Homo sapiens: one gene and its partner. The protein of the gene in region 1 interacts with the protein of each later gene in a pairwise test. Each region holds a gene or a part of one and is shown in the gene's direction. Other genes may lie near its edges.

Evidence for each region.
Region 2: the proteins of CPLANE2 (region 1) and MSLN interact in a two-hybrid assay, tested with the Homo sapiens proteins (one large-scale study listed by BioGRID and IntAct).

Annotation. Positions count from the first base shown.
Region 1 is NC_000001.11:16,230,989-16,234,288, reverse strand, and holds the end of CPLANE2 (ciliogenesis and planar polarity effector 2), read left to right. Parts: intron 1-524; coding exon 525-677; intron 678-1,271; coding exon 1,272-1,396; intron 1,397-1,642; coding exon 1,643-1,779; coding exon of another isoform or gene 1,780-1,790; intron 1,791-1,991; coding exon 1,992-2,241; 3' UTR 2,242-2,597; downstream 2,598-3,300. UniProt on the Homo sapiens protein: Required for efficient primary cilia initiation, regulating a late step in cilia initiation. Plays a role in the final maturation of the mother centriole and ciliary vesicle that allows extension of the ciliary axoneme.
Region 2 is NC_000016.10:766,244-769,366, forward strand, and holds the end of MSLN (mesothelin isoform 1 preproprotein), read left to right. Parts: intron 1-91; coding exon 92-247; intron 248-400; coding exon of another isoform or gene 401-424; coding exon 425-567; intron 568-641; coding exon 642-769; intron 770-1,132; coding exon 1,133-1,227; intron 1,228-2,135; coding exon 2,136-2,322; intron 2,323-2,404; coding exon 2,405-2,490; 3' UTR 2,491-2,619; downstream 2,620-3,123. UniProt on the Homo sapiens protein: Membrane-anchored forms may play a role in cellular adhesion. Megakaryocyte-potentiating factor (MPF) potentiates megakaryocyte colony formation in vitro.

The DNA of each region.
Region 1 (3,300 bases):
GGGATTATAGGCACCCACCACCACACCCAGCTGATTTTTGGTATTTTTTTTTGTAGAGATGGAGTTTCACCATGTTGGCCAGGCTGGTCTCGAACTCCTGACCTCAGGTGATCTGCCCGCCTTGGCCTCCCAAAGTGCTGGGATTACAGGTGTAAGCCACCGCACCAGGCCTCCTCTGTGTAATTTATAATGAACAGAAGCTTATTTGGCTCATGGTTCTGGAGGCTGGGAAGTCTAAGAACATGGCAGCAGCATCTGGAAAGGGCCTTCATGCTGTGTCATCCCGTGGCAGAAGGCAGAAGGGCAACAGCAAGACAGCAAGAGGCGCCCAAACTGGCTTTTATAACAAACCCACTCCCTCAATAACAACATTAATCCATTTATGAGGGCAGCTGATCACCTTGTGTTAGGCCCCACTTCCTAACACTGGTGCATTGGCGATTAAGTTTCCAACACATGAACTCTGGGGGACACCTTCAAACCACAGCACCCCTTGACCCTGCCTGGCTCTCTCTTTGCCCTAGGGCTGCTTGAGCGGCCAGTGCTGCTGCCGCCTGTGTCCATTGACACTGCCAGCTACAAGATCTTTGTGTCCGGGAAGAGTGGTGTGGGCAAGACGGCGCTGGTGGCCAAGCTGGCTGGCCTGGAGGTGCCTGTGGTGCACCACGAGACCACCGGTGAGTGGGACCTCTATCCTTTGCCCATCCTGGGAGGCCCTCCTTGGGGGTGGAGGCAAGAACCTGGCCCTGGACCACCTCTTACTCTGTAGCCTTGGAAAGTCACTTCACGTCTCTGAGCCTACATGGGCTCCTTGGTCCCAAGGGGATAATAGTACCACAGGGTTGTTGTGTGGTTGCCACTAGAGGTGGTGGTGGTGGTAACATGCCTAGCATCAAGCTACGCTCAAGGTAAATGCTCAGGAAATGCTAATCTTGCTTTGTTGTTTCTCACCACTGGATGCTGATTGTTCCACCATGTTGAAACATCTCCCAGCGTCCTGGGCCCTTTGGGTCTCCCTGGACATACAAACGAAACTTGCTTTGCCATAGCTAGGGCTGCATCTTCCTGGTGTACCAGAGTCTCCTCCAGGGCCAGTTTCTGTTTCTCCCATCAGACTGAGAATTATCCCGGGTCAAGGACTGTGCCTCCCTCATCAAACTAGGGACCCATCAGGGCAGGGATGTATCTCTTCTTCCTATTCCTTCCTGGTCCCCTATTCCTCCCATCTCCACCTCTCCCATGGTGAGTGGCTGACCCTGGCTCCCCCTCAGGCATCCAGACCACCGTGGTATTTTGGCCAGCCAAGCTGCAGGCCAGCAGCCGTGTCGTCATGTTTCGTTTTGAGTTCTGGGACTGTGGAGAGTCTGCACTCAAAAAGTTCGATCATATGCTGCTGGTGAGCAGGCATGTGGGCCTGGGTGGGTTCTGCCAGGGGCCGATTGGGTATTAATGAGCTCAAGGCACTGCTCAGAGACCTGAGCTGGCACTGGAGACAGTCCCAGCCCATGCTTGTCCTAGGACCAGCCGCTCCTTGCTCTGGGCCTCAGTTTCCCAATCTGTGAAAGGAGGGATTATTCCTGATTCTTCTGAGGGCCCTGCAGCTGATGGGGGGTGACATGGTTATATGCCTCTCCATCACCAGGCTTGCATGGAGAACACAGATGCCTTCCTCTTCCTCTTCTCCTTCACTGACCGTGCCTCCTTTGAAGACCTCCCTGGACAGCTGGCCCGCATAGCAGGTGAGGCCCCTGGTGTCGTCAGGATGGTCATCGGCTCCAAGTATCCTTTGGATATCCTTGGCAAGTCACGGAGCCAGGGGGTCAGGGGCCCAGCCTCTGCCCAGGCATGGAATTCAGCACCTGGGCTTTTACTTAAAGGGTACAGCATGGCTACCCCAGCTCCTGGGTGTGGGCTCCAGGGAGGAGGGAGAGGCAGGGTCTGATGGGGGGCTGTGCAGAGGCACCCAGTTAGGCTCCTTGACCCTCCTCCAGATTTGACCAGTACATGCACACGGACGTGCCCGAGCGGGACCTCACAGCCTTCCGGCAGGCCTGGGAGCTGCCCCTGCTACGGGTGAAGAGTGTGCCGGGGCGGCGGCTGGCTGATGGGCGCACACTGGACGGGCGGGCTGGGCTGGCCGACGTTGCCCACATACTCAATGGCCTTGCTGAGCAGCTGTGGCACCAGGACCAGGTGGCGGCTGGCCTGCTTCCCAACCCCCCAGAGAGTGCTCCTGAATGAGTCACGAGTGGTTGCCTGTGATCCCACCCCCAACCCTCAGGTCTCGACATAGGGCTGGAGGCTGGGGCAGGAACATGGATCCTATCTGGAGGACTGGCCAGCATGGCCTGATCAGGGAGGATGTGGCCAGAGAAGGCCCACCCGCGAGCAGCGCTTTCCTTGCAGAATTCATGGCAGGGAGGTGGGGACCAAGGCCCTGAGCTCGAACATCTCCCGTGGCCTTTCCCCCTTTGGCAGCACCGATGGAGGATGACTGGGAGAGGGGGTGCCTCTCAAGTTACTTCAATCAAGAACCTGTATTGGTTGAGGTGACACCATCTGTTGTAACAGATAAACCCCGAAATCCCAGTGCTGAACTCCAGAGACGTGTTCGTTCTCACGTAGGCCTCAGCTCGGGAGGAGGTGACAGTGGGCGTGGGGCTCTGCTCCAGGCGCTCCTGCAGAGACCCAGCCCCAGAGACCCTACCCTGCCCAGTTGCCCTAGGGTGTCAGCACCCAGTCAGCAGCCAGGGAGTGAGTGCAGGCAGGAGGTGTCCCCCCGCTTTCTGTGGACCAGGCCCAGGGTGGCACCTCATTCTGCCCACATTCCAGAGGCCAGCACCCAGCAGTCATGTGGTCATGTGGCGCTGTGGGGGAGGCTGGGACATGGAGTCCACCTGTGAGTCCAGGAGTTAAGCCCGTCGCGCTGCAGGGCCCTTTTTTTTTTTTTTTTTTTTTTTTCCAGAGTCTTGCTCTGTGGCACAGGTTGGAGTACAGTGGTGCACTCTCAGCTCACTGCAACCTACACCTCCTGGGTTCAAGCGATTCTCCTGCCACAGCCTCCCAAGTAGCTGGGATTACAGATGCCAACCACCATGCCTGGCTAATTTTTGTATTGTTAGTAGAGATGGGGGTCTCACTATGTTGGCCAGGCTGGTCTCGAACGCCTGACCTCAAATAATCCGCTCGCCACAGCCTCCGAAAATGCTGGGATTACAGGCACGAGCCACTGCGCCCGGCCTGCAATGCCTTTCTTGATCATGGAGTTGTCAGGCCAGGCTTAGGATAGGAGTCTTGGCA
Region 2 (3,123 bases), on another chromosome or scaffold:
CATGACTCAAGTTCCCACCGGCCTGCTGTGTCCAAGCCATCCCCAGCCCCTCTGGGAGTGACATGGGCCCTCCTGGTCTCTTGGCCTGCAGCTCTACCCACAAGGTTACCCCGAGTCTGTGATCCAGCACCTGGGCTACCTCTTCCTCAAGATGAGCCCTGAGGACATTCGCAAGTGGAATGTGACGTCCCTGGAGACCCTGAAGGCTTTGCTTGAAGTCAACAAAGGGCACGAAATGAGTCCTCAGGTGACCGTCCGGCTCGGGGGTCATGTGGCATGAGATTGGGAAGGGCTGAGGGGCAGAGTGGGGGACAAAGCCTGAGGTTGGGCGGGCCTGGGGTCAGGGGCACGGCCTGAGGTTATGCTGGTGGTGGAGGGATACATCTCTCCTTGCCACAAGGCTCCTCGGCGGCCCCTCCCACAGGTGGCCACCCTGATCGACCGCTTTGTGAAGGGAAGGGGCCAGCTAGACAAAGACACCCTAGACACCCTGACCGCCTTCTACCCTGGGTACCTGTGCTCCCTCAGCCCCGAGGAGCTGAGCTCCGTGCCCCCCAGCAGCATCTGGTGAGTCCCCAGAACTCTGCCCGGCAAGGTGGGTCCGTGTGCTGGCGCTCACTGTCCACCCACCGTGTCCCCAGGGCGGTCAGGCCCCAGGACCTGGACACGTGTGACCCAAGGCAGCTGGACGTCCTCTATCCCAAGGCCCGCCTTGCTTTCCAGAACATGAACGGGTCCGAATACTTCGTGAAGATCCAGTCCTTCCTGGGTGAGCCAGGGAGTCCCTGGCCAGGGTGGGCAACACAACGGGGGAAGCACAGACTCCACTCGGGGGTGCCAGGCCTTTGCCTCGCCGGGCCGTCTGCTGCCAGGGTAACTGGGTGGTCACCCGCCCTCTGCCCCCCGGGGTGTGTATGGCCTTAGGGGCTGTGGGTTCTGACCCCAGCTCGGGGCGCCAGCCACCTCCAGGGTCTCCCACGCCTGGGGGTCAGGCGGCTAGGCAAACCCAGGCCCTGGAATCCCTAAGGAAAAAGGGAAGCCCTGTAAGGCAAGTGGGCTTCCTGCAGCCTGTGGTCAAGGGCCTGGGGGTGTGAGGTGAGGCCTCAGCTCGGGCCCCTCTCCCGGCGGGCAGGTGGGGCCCCCACGGAGGATTTGAAGGCGCTCAGTCAGCAGAATGTGAGCATGGACTTGGCCACGTTCATGAAGCTGCGGACGGATGCGGTGCTGGTATGGCGAGCGGGAGGAGGGGCGTGTGGAGGAGGGGCCCGTGGAGGAGGGGCGAGTGGGAGGAGGGGCGCGTGGAGGGGGGGCGTGTGGGGGGGTGCGTGGAGGAGGGGCGCGTGGAGGAGGGGCGCGTGGAGGGGGGAGCGTGGGGGGCGTGGAGGAGGGGCGCGTGGAGGAGGGGCGCGTGGAGGGGGGAGCGTGGGGGGCGTGGAGGAGGGGCGCGTGGAGGGGGGAGTGTGGGGGGGCGTGGAGGAGGAGGGGCGCATGGGGGGGTGTGGAGGGGGGCGCGTGGAGGAGGGGCGCGTGGAGGGGGGAGCGTGGGGGGCGTGGAGGAGGGGCGCGTGGAGGGGGGCGCGTGGGGGGGGCGCATGGGGGGGCGTGGAGGGGGGTGCGTGGAGGAGGGGCGCGTGGAGGAGGAGGGGCGCATGGGGGGGTGTGGAGGGGGGCGCGTGGAGGGGGCACGTGGAGGGGTCGCGTGGAGGAGGGGCGCGTGGAGGGGGCCGTGTGGGGGGGCGTGGAGGGGGGCGCGTGGAGGAGGAGGGGCGCATGGGGGGGTGTGGAGGGGGGCGCGTGGAGGGGGCGCGTGGAGGAGGGGCACATGGAGGGGGGGGCAAGTGGAGAAGCCCTGGTGGAGGGGCGCATGGAGGAGGGGCCAACGGGGGGTGGGAGGGCGTGTAAGGCGGGTCTGCAGTGGGGCGAGGCCTTAGGAAGGGCAGCATCTTCCCGTGTGGTGGGGCCTAGGGAAGGGCAGCCATTGAGCTGAGGTCAGCTGGCCGGAGACCTCCGAAGTCTGGAGAGGCTGCGGTGGGCATCTGTGGGTGGGGCAGTTTGGACACAGGAGAGCCTGGCAGCCCTCTGGCGGCGCTGAGGGAAGGAGACCCTCCTTGATGGCTGCCCGGGGTCTCTGGCAGCCGTTGACTGTGGCTGAGGTGCAGAAACTTCTGGGACCCCACGTGGAGGGCCTGAAGGCGGAGGAGCGGCACCGCCCGGTGCGGGACTGGATCCTACGGCAGCGGCAGGACGACCTGGACACGCTGGGGCTGGGGCTACAGGGCGGCATCCCCAACGGCTACCTGGTCCTAGACCTCAGCATGCAAGGTGGGCGGGGCGGCCAGGCCAGGGCTGGGGGCAGAGCTGGGGGCGTGGAGGTGGGCGCTCTGAGTCACCCCTCTCTCTGTAGAGGCCCTCTCGGGGACGCCCTGCCTCCTAGGACCTGGACCTGTTCTCACCGTCCTGGCACTGCTCCTAGCCTCCACCCTGGCCTGAGGGCCCCACTCCCTTGCTGGCCCCAGCCCTGCTGGGGATCCCCGCCTGGCCAGGAGCAGGCACGGGTGGTCCCCGTTCCACCCCAAGAGAACTCGCGCTCAGTAAACGGGAACATGCCCCCTGCAGACACGTCTTGTGGCCTCCGAGGACTTTCTGTGACCCCACCAGCGTGGCCCCTCTCCCTCTGGTCTTGCGCCCCCAGGCCAGGTGGGGGCCCTTGGAGGTCTTCCTGACCCTGCTGCCACTGTGCTGAGGGCCAGGCCAGCACTCAGGGTGGCCCCAGGAGCCGGTGGTGGGAGTCCTGTGCCCCTGTCCCCACAGGCTTGGCCCCGGCTAGGACATTCCCGGGCCCCCCTGCTCAGGCCCTGAGCACAGACACAGGCAGGACCACGACCGTGGACTTTATTCATGTCCAGCAGTGAAGTCTGTGGCCCCGGCCCCGGCCCCGGCCCCGGCCCCAGCCCCAACCCCAACCCCAACCCCGGCCCCGGCCCCGGCCCCGGCCCCAGCCCCAGCCCCAGCCCCAGCCCCAGCCCTCCGCAGGGCCCGGGCAGCGTCTTCCGTGGCCCGCCTGGGCCTGTGGTTGTGCGGGAGGCACCTTCTTAGGGCCTGGTCCTCAGTCCAGCTCCCAGG